Linked DNA regions of Homo sapiens: regions 2 and 3 are each linked to region 1. The links come from fine-mapping of genetic effects on gene expression. Tissue or cell type: whole blood. Region 1 holds a variant in brackets; each other region holds the start of a gene. Each region is shown on its reference strand, or each on the opposite one.

Region 1 (4,246 bases):
CATATCTTTGGCAAGTTCTATTAGTTTGTCTAGACAGGCAACGCCTTGGAACTTTTTTTCCATCAAATCTGTAATCTTAATTCTGTTGTATTCCTCTTGCATTTTTGTAGTTAGTCCTAAATCATAGGCCAGTAAGGACTTAATTGATGTAAAATGATAATCATCCATGAGCTCAAATCCTTTCAGCAAAAGAATTTTCTTGTATTCATTCACCATTTCTGATGTTATAGCTTGGCCTATAAAGTAAAAATGACACACAACATTACACATTTATGCAGACAATTTTAAAAAATGAGATATGCTTTTGTGAGTGAGTGTCCCAGGCCAAAATGTTGTCCTTGGATGCGTATAAGAAAAAGGGACTAAGTTACCAGATATGTCACTGTGAACAATGGATCAAGACTTGCTTTATTAGGAGGTTCAGTGAAGTTCTTCCCTTTTAATGTTGATAAGTTGGGACAGAGGTGTATGTGGTGAAATGATGTTTGGAAACAGGTAATTGTTGCAGTATTTATAGTATGGGTTTTGTGGTGTCAAAGTCCCTGGTTCCTCTTCTGATATTTTATTGGGGCCTGAGCCTATCCCTCAATGCCTACCTCTTGGTTCCTGATTCTTCCCTGATTCTTCCCTGATTCTTCCTGGTCATCCACTATGACCAAAGTGGCCTAAGTATAAATGGGCTGCAGCCACTCACCTTATGTGAATAACCTTCTGCCACAGCACTACAGTTCTGAGTTGTGGAATGGACTCTAGTCCTTCTTGGCTCTCCCTAATCAGCTCTCGTTAGCACTTTTTCTCCCTGGGGCTTAGAACTTGTTCTCTGTGTCCTATGCATCTATAAAATTGTCATTTTGCCATCCTCCTATCTGCTCTCTAGTGTGGAATTGCAGCATTTATTTTTTGCACATTTGTTTTTTACAGTCAATTATTTACCTCCAACTAGTCTTACTTTTACTAAAAGGTTTCTGTCAGACAACCAAGTAGGTTTCTTTATGGATAAAGACATGACTCTATTTTTCCTGAAATCCTTCAATGAGTTTTGATTTTTATTAGTATAGATTTCTACTCAGCATGACTTGAAAGGCCTTGCATAAACTGTATCTTTCTTTTTGTGTGTGTCTGTTACTTTTGAATTTCTTATACCTTATGCTCTAGAAATACACAATATGTCTTTCTTTTTCAGGTCTTCTTACTGCTAATTCCCTTCCTGCTATCTGGGAAAGCATTCCCAGTTTTCTTCCTCTGAATACTTCCTTAGAGTTTTTAATGCTTAATTGAGGCTTTATCTTCTGCGAGCTGTTGTGGTCCCACTCTCACTTATGTGTGCCTCTTTAACCCCTTGTGTACTACCTAAGGGCATTCAGTTCCTAACGTATATTCCAATTTTCTGTTTAAATTTATAGGTATTCCTTTAGGTTGGTGACCATGTGTTTGTGCAACTTTTATATAATTAGAGTGTCCAAATTCTTAGGGCTGTAAATTGTTCTCTTTTGGGAGAACATGAGTGTTCCTGTGTTTAAACCTATCAGATAAAGAGAAATTTCACACATGGGCACATATAGTAAAGCCAAAGAATATTAAAAGCAAAATGATAAAATCTTCCAGAAATACTGAGTAGAACACCTACAAAGATTAAATAATCTGATTGAACAGTCTGCAGCAGGTTAAGAAAGTAATTTTTACATAGTACTGATCCATAATTATATGTCTGCAATTTTAAAACCTAAGAAGATACTGAAGGATGAAAAGATTTGTGCGGTTTGGGGGCTTGGGAAGGGATGAGAGTTAGCAGGGAAGTGTGGTAGCAAAATCATCTTGCAAATTAGAGATATAATGTGAAGTAATAC[G/A]TGGCTGATATGGTTTGGCTATGTCCCAACCCAAATCTCATCTTGAAATATCATCTTGTGATAGTGAGCAAGTTCTCATGAGATCTATGGTTTTATAAACATCAGGCATTTCCCCTGCTAGCACTCATTCTCTCTCCTGCCACCCTGTGAAGAGGTGCCTTCCATCATGATTGTAAGTTTCCTTAGGACTCCCCAGCCGTGCGGAACTGTGAGTAAATCAAATCTCTTTTCTTTATAAATTACCCAGTCTCAGGTATTTCTTCATAGCAGCGTGAGAAGGAACTAATACAGTGGCTATTTTTAATCTTCCTTATTCATCTCACTTTAATGTGAATAGTGGCATGATTTGTTGAAGAACTCTTAATGCATTTGATATTAGGATGTTGATATTACCTCTACTGGGACACTTGCAGTGCCTACATACAATGTATGCATTAAGTAGTCTTTCTAAAATCCCCCCCTAAAAAAATGAATTAAAAATCAGAGTTGTCCCAGGGGTTTCAGGTGAAGTGCTGTGAATCAGTTTTCAAGCAAAAATATTTTTCAAACTAAAATTTTGTATCTGGTCAAAATGTTATTTGAATGTTATGGTTTAAAAAATTGTTCTCTTCTCACTGAGAGTGACATTAGCAAGATTGCAGACAAGGACGTTCCAGACTTTCATTATACCATGGAAACACCAAATAAAGAACAATTTATGAACCAAACTAATGTTTTCAGCTGTTAAGAATTGGTTGCAACAAAGGAAATTCCAAACCAAGATTAAGCCACATTCAAAATAGTGGAAAACTTCTAGGTGTTTTTCTTTGTCCCTGTTTAACTTTCTCCCTTGAATGGTGTGACGTGATCAGGAGGAAACTTCCTAATTCCTCATTCTTCCTTTGGAATAGAAGGAAAAGTGTGGAACTGCTTTGCAACATTATAGCTTCTCTGTAGGTTCCTTGAGGGACTAGTAACTGCTTCACATGACTTGGAGCATTGATGGAAATGGTGGCATAGTTTAAATGTCAGATTTGAGGCTGCAAAAAGTAGTGGTGGGTGCTCCAGCTTGTGAGAGCTTCATGGGATCTGCTACTCCCTGGGTGCCAGAAGGCAAGAGATTATGGATAGAGGAATACAGTAGAACATCTAAGGTCATGAAAAGAGGCAGGTGTGGCTCTTAGGGAAATTACAGATTAAAAGCAGTGTGTATATGAGAGAATTACAAAAAATGCACACACATAAGCCCAGGCAAGACACACGTCCATATAGGCCTCAGAGAACGTTTATATTTCATACTTAGCTGAAGAGTGAAAGTCCTCCCCTGAATATGGTGCCAGTTAACAATGGTTGAGAGGGGGCTGTTTTTACAAATGTCCAGTTTTCAACAAAAGGTATACAAAGAAACAGGTAAACATGGTCAATTTTAAAGAAAAAAATGAATCTCCACAAACTTTCTCTAAAGAAACACAGCCCTCAGACTTTCTTGTCAAAGACTAAAACAGCACTCTTAAATATGATAAATGAGTTAAAGGAAAATAGGTAGAGACAACTAAATAAAATCAGGAAAATGATTAATAAAAAATGAGAATAGACAAAAAATAGAAATTACCAGAAAAAATTCCATAAATTCTGAAGCTGAAAAACACATTGACTGCATTGTAAAATCCACTAGAGGGGTTCCTCAGCCCACACCAATAGGCAGAAGAATCAGTTAGCTTTTAGACAGGTCATGTGTAATTATCAAGGCTGAAGAACAAACTTTTTTAAAAGATATAAAGGAAAGTGAACAGAACTTATAAAGTTCATCAAGTGGGACAATATATGCATTATGTAAGTCTGAAAAGGTGATGGAAAAGAGAAAGGAATAACAAAATTATTGAGTAAATAAGGACTGAAAACTTTCCAAATTTGAGAAAAGACTAAATGTACAGATATAAGAAACCAAACAAGCTGCAACTATGATAAACTCAAAGAAACTTACACTATGACACATTATTATCAAATTACCAACACTCAAAGACGAAAAGAAAATCATTTAAAAAGCGCAAGAAAAAGGCAACTCATTATATCCAAGAAATCTTCAATAGGATTATGAGCACATTTTTCAGCAAATACTTTGTAGACCAGAAGGTAGTGGGACAATACATTTCAAGTGTTTAAAGAAAAGTCTGTCCATCAAAAATGCTATATCTGGGAAACCTGCTATTCATAAATGAGAGAAATTAAGACATTCCCAGATAAACATAAGCTGAAGGATTTCATTACCACTATATCTACCTTAAAAGAAATACTAAAGAGATTTCTTCAAGCTGAAACACAAGGATGCTAGATGGTAACTCAAACTCATACAAAAATGTAAGTTCTTGATGAAAGGTAAGTATATACATAAACATGAAACATGACTTTTGCTATTTTGA
Region 2 (4,246 bases), not on the chromosome of region 1:
TGATGTTATGCAGGAGAGGGAAAGTTAAAGTTGATCTTGGCATGATATGGACAGAAATCTTTTAACATTGACAGTCAAATTCTCAGCATCTTGGAGCATCATACCTTAATTGATCCAAAATAAGTGTATAAAAACCAGACACTTTGGGAAGATCATTTTCTCACAAAGAAGGCAAGAATCTTAATGCTAGTCTTTTTGGAGCTAAGTTTTGCTTTAGGTGTGAGATTAATCTTCAGTGCCCCATAGAGCTTTTCTAAGTCTTTTCTTCTTTTCAGTAACCTCTTTCTTTCTGCTCCCTCTCCTCTGCTTAGGGCACTCTCTCTGGGCAACTTCCTTAGGAGAAAAGCAAAAAGTAATAAATCCATGAGCTAGCATCTCATGCTGAATTAAACATGTAACACTGCTTTCATGATGCCGGTTAGTGCAAGTGAAAGCACCGAGCTGGGTTCGAATCCCTGCTCTGTCTCTATGGAATCTGTCATGTTACTTAACCCAGCTAAACCTCAGCTTCCCCATCTGTAAAGGCAGTGAAACAATAACCACTTCGAAGGGTTACAAGTAGTCAAGAGAAAATGGCAGCCTAATGCCCAACACCCTAGTAGATATTCTAAAAGCTTATGTCCCTTCTGATCACTCCATAGGCAAAGTTTTAAAAAGGACCATAAAAAGTTAAAAAACTAAAGACAGTGAAATAATAATGATCCTTAATGATAAAATTTTACTTCTCATCCCTCTGTCCCCAGCTCCTGGGTATAGGAGAAAATGGGAGGCAGGAAGACCTCCTCATGTATTGCCATGTCAACAAACACCAGTCCATACATAGTAGGTTTGTCGCAGACTTTCCATCCTGAGACGAGTTACCATAAAATGAGGTTGAACCATACCCTTATTGACTGTGTATTTGTGCCACCATATTTCCTACAAATAAATACTTGGATGTGACTCAAAGTGTGGTCCGTGCACTTGCATCATCCGGGCGATCATTAGACATGCAGACTCTCAGTTCCCACCCGAGACCTCGCGCAGCCAAATCTTCATTTTAGCAAGATCCCCAGGTGATCCACGTGCACAGGAAAGCTTGAGAAGCACTTACATGGACCACAAAGTTGCACTCCTTTTCAAATCCAATGAAATCATTGTGGCCCACAAAATCTTTCAAAATTATATGGATATGAGTACAACTGCATGGTTCACCTCCCTCCCACCTGTCTATCTCCATCTAAAATACACAAAGCACTTGATTTAGGGAGACCTCAGGAACCTAAGAGCAAATATTTGTAGCTAAAGTAACATCATAAAAACACAGTTAAAGAAGGTATAAGGAACATTTCTATGTCTCTTTGGAAGCAGTTATGAGGCCAATATGAAAGGCTATGGAAAGGCAATACCTAAAGAAGCGGATGGAGAAAATTAGCAGAGAATACACACAAAGCTAGGTAGAACTGGTGGTGATACATAAACAACCTGAGAGCTTCCCTAACTGAGATTTTGAGCAAGGAGTGAATTTACAGTGAAATTATAGCAGTTTCAGCCGTTGGCCTCCAAATTACCTGGTCCCATCTAAAGTCCCAGAGAAAGCCCTGGCAATTTCATATTAAAAATGTTGTACTATTTTTCTTAAAGTGAGCTTCCCAAAGTTTGTAACTTCAGGCCCCACAACACCGGGAACCAAACCTATTTTCCGCATAGTATGCGACACTGAGTAGCCACCTGCCGCTTAAACGCACCGTCTCAGCTTGTTCCGTGCTTGCCTGGGTCCGCCGCGGTGCTTGGTCTGCTGTTGCAGGAACACGGCCCCGGCTGTCCTGTTTCCAGAAGCAAATTGTTTCACATTTTCCTGGCTGCCGGGTCAGAAATGGCTACATTACTCAGTGCCCCCAACACGTTTATTGTCCTACAGAGCCTTACACAATCCCACAGGAAACCACGCTCAACACTTAGCCAACACTTGTTGATCTGATTGAACGCAACAAAAACGGAGACAAAAGCATACTTCATAAAGTTTCCAATTTTGATAACTATAGCTCCCACTTTTCCCAGGCAGCTCTCGGGTACATGTGATAACCCTGCCTTTGTTTGTAGAGCTCTATGCTGGAAAGGACAAGAAAATATCTCGGCAAAACCCGACTGCTGACGCTGACTTCTCTCACATGAGCCAGGAAACCATTAGGTAATGCAAAGTGCACAGAGAATATGCAATGAAAACTTCAACTCAACATTTGGACAAAGGAAGGCCAGAGAATATGTAAGAACAGTTCATATGATGGAAAAGGAGCTTATTTATATAGTTTAAGTTATTAAGAAATCCAGAAATGGAAAATAGATTGTTTTTGCTAAGGTATGGTACACCTAGATCGCAATGAAAAAGTGTGTCACTTGACATCATTATGACAGACTCACAACTTTTGGCTTCCCCCATTCCACTATTTTCTCTGGTGCATACCGGCTGGCCATCTGTAATAAATCTAAGGACATATTTTATGTCCTGCTATGGATAGCCAAGAAAAGTAATCATCCTTTTGGCATGCATTGACACACTGTGTTTACTTATAAATTGTTGCTTACTGTAACTTATTTGTAAGTATCTATGATGTGAAGAAGTCTTGGGTTGGCAGAAGAGAGTGAAGCTACTGGCTTTCAAAGAGGTATTCTTTTGAGTGTACATGGAATTAGCATCATTTCTATTAATTCGTTCAGTCAAGTCTTATTTGAGAACCTGCCATGTGCTGAGCATTCCGTTAGGGGTTGGAGACACAAGAGCAAACAGAAGAGAGGCAGCCCACATCTTCAAGGGGCTTATGTGTCTGTGTGGGGGGGGGGGGAACCACAAATAGTGGTTTAATTACAGTAGAGTATGGGAAAAATAACTTGCAGAAATATTTTTTAATATTTCAGTTTGGAAACTAGAATTTTGGGAAGGGAAAGGAGTCCTTCAGAAGAATTCAAAAGAGTGTAACTTACATTCTAATAGCAAATTAAAGTCACTGATGGATTCCAAATAGCTCTCCATTCTTTAGGAATATAGTAGGTAGTCATTCAAAAAATTAAGGGTGAAGCAGGGCAAGAGTGGCACAACAACCTGGCTAAATAAATTAATTCTACACTCTGCTAGTTAATTTCCTTTTCCACATGGCGATTTGTATTTACTTCACAACTTATATATGGTAATATGGCAAAAGTTCGATTCTAGAATAAAAAGTAAACTTAGGGTAGGGGAAGGAGGAGTTGGTGATATGGTTTGGCTGTGTCCTCACCCAAATCTCATCTTGAATTGTAGTTCCCATAATCCCCACATGTTGTGGGAGGGACCTAGTGGGAGGTAATTGAATCACGGGAGTGGATGTTTTTACCGTGCTGTCCTCATGACAGTGAATAAGTCTCACCAGATCTGATGGTTTTATAAAGGGCAGTTCCCCTGCACACGCACTCTTGCTTGCCACCAGGTAAGACATGCCTTTGTTCCTCTTTCACCTTCCACCATGATTGTGAGGCCTCCCCAGTCATATGGAACTGTGAGTCCATTAAACCTCTTTTCCTTTATAAATTACCCAGTCTTGAGTATTTCTTCATAGCAGTATGAAAATGGACTAATACAGTCGGTATAACTGTGGAAACACCTGGGCACAATCTCTTGGGATTTCCATCCCTTCTTGGGGGCATAAAACACCCAAGGACAGCTGGGAGGAGTGGTTTCCTCTAAGGCAAAATGTCACAGATTTATTTACTTTATTCTATTCATTCACTTCCTCTGCTACTTCTCCTGTTTCTTTGGCTCTGTATTTTCCATGAGTTTAGTTACATCCTAACTTTTGGCAATCTGCTATTACGATAATATGACTTCATTTACTCAAATTATACTCTGCATTGTCATCTTTACTCAGTTAGAATTTTAGGAATTTTCTCCTAAGCTTGTTCATGCAAGCCTTTAGCAGGCCACAGCTAAAGGGACATGGCATGGGATAATTTGACTTCATGATGTGAACAAGCCTGTTTACTTGTGCTTACATTTTTAAAATAAAAAAGAACCTGGTAGAATCCATTGTCAGAGAGAGAGAGAGAGAAAGGGGGAAGGAGAGAGAGAGAGAGAGAGGGAGAGAGAGAGAGAGAGAGAGAGAGAGAGAGAGAGAGAGAGGAAGAAAGAAAATGAGATAATCAGAGTCCTTCTGGCTTGTGGCTGACCTGTATTTTTCTCTCACTTTAGAAAATTCACTTGACTCATGGCTTTAAACACCATCTATATGCTTAT
Region 3 (4,246 bases), not on the chromosome of region 1:
AACGGAGGAAGATTTTTTAAAAAATCTTAGGAACTCAAAGAATCCCAGGAGTAATGCAGATTGTGGCAAAAGATTACAACTGTATTACGAGCATATAAAATAACTTCACTGAGGCCGGGTAGAGGTAGGAGGGAGGGCTGCTGACTTCAGTAACTTTGAAAATAAGTGGAATCTATAAGATTAAAAGCAAAAGAACTATACATAAGCATTGTACTCTAATTGGTAAATCTGTTTCTCACAGGTATACCTGATAACAGTTCAGAAACAACTATACATGTACTCTGAATACGGGTTGACGGTTCTGAATCCATTATACACGTAACCTGGAATTGAACAATTAGGTAAATGGATGGCAGATGATGAGAGCCAGGTGTCTCACACTGGAGTGGAAGGCTACAGACAAGCAAGGGGAGAAGGCTGCAATGATCCATATGGTGCTGGAATTGAACTGAAGATAACAGCTCTAGTATTTGAACCTAGAACGCCTGTGTAGCTGTCAAAGATACAGATGGATACATATATAAATACTTACAGATATGCGTATTTAGTCAGGTTAGCATATCCACAAATATTTCCTTGCTCTGTCAGCTGAGAGTGTCTAGAAGCAACAACATCCCAAATGTCCAAATCTTGATTTCTAATATCATTTTCCATTAAAAGTACCCTTGGCTTTTTGGGGAAGCAGCTGATTCTAGGATTGGGGCAGGGAATATACAAGATGAGCCTGGAGCAACTTATAGAAATTAAGAAAATGCTCAAGAAAAAAAATCAATAAACATAAAACGAGGAGGGTTTGTCAAAAAGACACAAATGCCAACTAAAGGAAATCTCAATAGCCAAAGCTGGAACCAATATGAACAACAAAATAAAGTAGTATTGGATTATAACCCAAAATGTAAAATAAATATCCATGAGTCCATACTGACATAAATGATTGAATACATAAATAAATGCAGTACAGACAAATCTCCCATGCAGAAGAATTCCAAATAATTCATGAAGATATTCTGTCCTCATAAAGGTGGAGTATAACAATTTCCCATTCCTATAGTTTGGGCTGCACAGAGAGATGTCCTTCCAAATAGTATAGTATGGAGAGGAAAAGAAAAACAGTAACTTCACAGTGGAGAAACCTGACAAACCCTACATAGGGAGGTGGAAGGGCTTACTAGATGAAACAAAGGGGATCTTTGTAGAACTATAAAACTTTTCTGTATGACACTGTAATAATGGTGATAAAGGTTAGCATCAACAGTAATAAGTCATGTTGATAGTATATACCCTTGATGTGATGTGATGAGAAGATCACTTTACCTTACCTCTTAACTCAAGAAAAACCCATAACCTCAGTTAATGCATGAGAAAAATACAGGCAAAACCCAATTGAAGGACATTTGACCAAATGACCAATAAGTCGCTTCAAAACTATTAAGGTTATCAAAAACAAGGAAAGTTTGAGAAACGGTCACGGTCCAGAGGAGCCTGGAAGACATGGTGATGTACTCCGGACAGGATCCTGGAATGGAAAAGAATACCAGGTCGAAAACTAAGGACATCTGGAATAAAATATGGGCTTATGGGCTTTAATCAATTTTTAAAAAAGTATTAGATACATGAAAATGATACACGATTTACAAATCAATCGCCTAATATTTATCGAGCATATTGAGAGCCTGGCACTGTGGTAGGGCTGGGGACACAGAAAGAGGTAAGTGCCCTATGCTCAAAAACAGCGATTCATGAAAAATAAACAACTATGACAAAAAGAACAGAAGACTGTATCTCCTGGAGGCAGTAAGGAAGGCTTAAGTTGGGAGGACTATCAAACGCATCAAGGAGTTACTGAAGATTAACTGACCCGCCTAACGCAGGTCGGAAGCCCTCCTATCCATCCACCCAAATCACCCCTGCCCCACCTTTTCTCCTCCCTTGCGTTTACCCAATGGCAGGTCGGCTCCACGTAGGCCTACTTTGCGCGTGCGCATCATCGTTTCGACGCGCTCGGAAGCAACTTCCTTTGCCTGCTCACCGCCAGCGTAGGTGCTACCACCGCTGCCGTCGCCGCCGCCATTTTGATGGCAGGAAGAGTCCGGTTCTGGGACAGCTGGAGACAGTGGTGGTGACTGGTACGGATGGTTTCCGCCCATGTTAGCCCCTCCAAATTTGCCCGTGTTAGGGTTACAGCCCTCGGTATTGCCCGTATTTTCACTGGGTCCCTGTCGTTGTCCCCAGCCATCCTGTCCGTCTGTCTTTAGTCTCTTTTCTGCTTCCTCATCTTTCCGATCAGCCTGAAGCTTTGCTTGGAGCTGTTGTTACGCAGCCCCAACTTCTGTTAAAGCAGCCGCTTCGATCCTCTGGACTGAATTTTGGCCACCCAGCCCCCATTCCCCTCCCGGATCTGGTCCGAGTTGTTTTTCCGCGGCTGTAAACCGGAAGGGCTCTGAGCTGCACTGCCGGCTCCGGGCTGGGGGATCTGTGCCTGGCATGGGGGCGAGTTCTGGCCTCCTTAGGGTACGGGGAGAGCTTGGACTTTGGTCCTGACGTGGTGGACGACACACCTTCGAAGAGTGGACGTTACCTCAGTTGTCTGTTGTTAGAGTTTAATCGATCACTCGTCTGTTTTGTTGTGTTCTTTCCCAGAAATAACTTTACCAAAGGAAAGCTATTTTGCGAACTATCTTCTCCAGCGGAGATGGCCAATGTGAGTAAATTATCTCTTAAGAATCAGCATAGTAAACTCGTTTGGGAATGTTAGGAATGAAAGAACGGGTTTAATTATGATGGCATTGGGTGGTATAGTGTTAGATATAATGTATCAAAAATGTCAAGGGAAGCAAGTGGTGTGAAATTATGTTATGCTTTGAAGATGGTAGCATTCTTTGCACTGCAAATACACTTATTTATACAATTTCATTTGTACAGATGTGGAAATTCAAGCACCCTTTCGGTATTTTTTAAATACAGCGTTTCAGTAAATATTAGAATCTATGTTTAGGCCCTTTTTTAGCTTTTGGGTTAGCTAAACTGAAGGGTTTTTTTAATCTTTTTTTCTTTTTTTTAAAACAGTTTCCATATTGGAAGTGACCTTCTAAATCCTACAAAATAAGAATAGGAGATACTCTCACACACCAGAGATATTTATTGACTGTAACTTTGCAGTGATTAGACACATCCTATCTATAGAATTCATATGTAGCGGTCATAAGACATATATAAAAACAGCTACAATTAAAGTATAAAGTAATAATTTTTTTTAGAACCTACACGAAGGTGCAATGCAGATTCAAGTCTTTGTGGAGAGGAGTTTGGGATCACTTCATGAGGGAAACATTTAACTTGAGGTTTGAAAGATAGGTGGGATTTGTATAGTCTAAAATATGAGCGGGAAGGACAGGAAGGTATATTCAAAGAACTCCCCAACCCGCCTACCCCTTTGAAAAACTGAAAAGTGACTGCTGCCTGCCAACCTGAATGTAAGCTGCATGAAAGAGATAAGTGGGAGATAAGGTTGAATTGTGAGGTTGGTACCAAGTAAATGAGAGCCTTGAATGCCGAACTCAGTAATTTAGACTTCATTCTTTAAATTGTGATTATTCACTTAGAGCTGTGTGCTAGGAAGATTTATATGGCAGCATTTAGCCAGGATGCTATTTCTGTAATTGAACATGGTATATTAAGTCTAAAGTGTGACTATAGAGACAAGTCATAAGAATAGATTACTAGTCTTGGCCAAGTTCTATGGTGAATTTTTGCCTGCCCATAACCTGCACAGAAAGAGAATGCTGTAAAAGAAGTATGTGGTACTTTCAAAGGAGAGAAATTAATTGAAGTAGAATAGAATGCTATTATTTGACCTGGTTTTATTTTGGTTTAAATGAATAAATTATAATAGTTCAGTAGGGAAGATCCTTTTATAAGTCTTTTGTTAGAAAGAAGTTCATATTAAAATAAATTTAAGTTTCAGTATCCAAATGTACGATAACAATTTTTGTGTTAATTTATATGGATTGTAAATTGTGGATGGATGTTACTAATGAAATATGCAGATAGTGTTTCATAACAAGGGGCAAGAATGTTCATGTTTCAGAGTCTAGACAGGTACATTAAGAAGCCTTCATGGGGACTGTGACAAAGCCTTTCTGAACAAAGGGGAGCAACCTTTCCTTAGCTACAGTGATTTGTTGCTAACTAATGCCATTTGGTTATGTGAATCCAATACTGCCAGATCTTCTGAGTTTTCAAGAAG

The links. PIP is the estimated chance that this variant, and not a neighbour inherited with it, causes the effect. A credible set is the group of variants that fine-mapping cannot tell apart.
Region 2: BMX starts here. The variant in region 1 is the best candidate, but not a certain one, in a credible set for the expression of BMX in whole blood (TOPMed, PIP 0.74).
Region 3: it holds the start of MMADHC, and the variant in region 1 is fine-mapped to the expression of MMADHC in whole blood (TOPMed, PIP 0.94).

What each region holds. Positions count from the first base shown.
Region 1 is chr1:158,838,124-158,842,369 of GRCh38, reverse strand. MNDA (myeloid cell nuclear differentiation antigen) reads right to left here. Exons shown (of 7, transcript NM_002432.3): 2 at 1-236. The coding sequence starts at 216. It also overlaps a transcript of OR6N1 not described here. Among named protein-coding and RNA genes, the nearest start is that of MNDA, 8.9 kb to the right of the region's middle. The variant G/A (reference allele first, on the strand shown) is at 1,848.
Region 2 is chrX:15,498,422-15,502,667 of GRCh38, reverse strand. BMX (BMX non-receptor tyrosine kinase) reads right to left here and starts at 1,861. Exons shown (of 19, transcript NM_203281.3): 1 at 1,728-1,861.
Region 3 is chr2:149,585,544-149,589,789 of GRCh38, reverse strand. MMADHC (metabolism of cobalamin associated D) reads left to right here and starts at 2,015. Exons shown (of 8, transcript NM_015702.3): 1 at 2,015-2,126; 2 at 2,641-2,701. The coding sequence starts at 2,693. It overlaps MMADHC-DT (MMADHC divergent transcript), which reads right to left and starts at 2,432. Exons shown (of 3, transcript NR_110240.1): 1 at 1,940-2,432. RefSeq lists enhancers at 1,969-2,288, 1,605-2,804.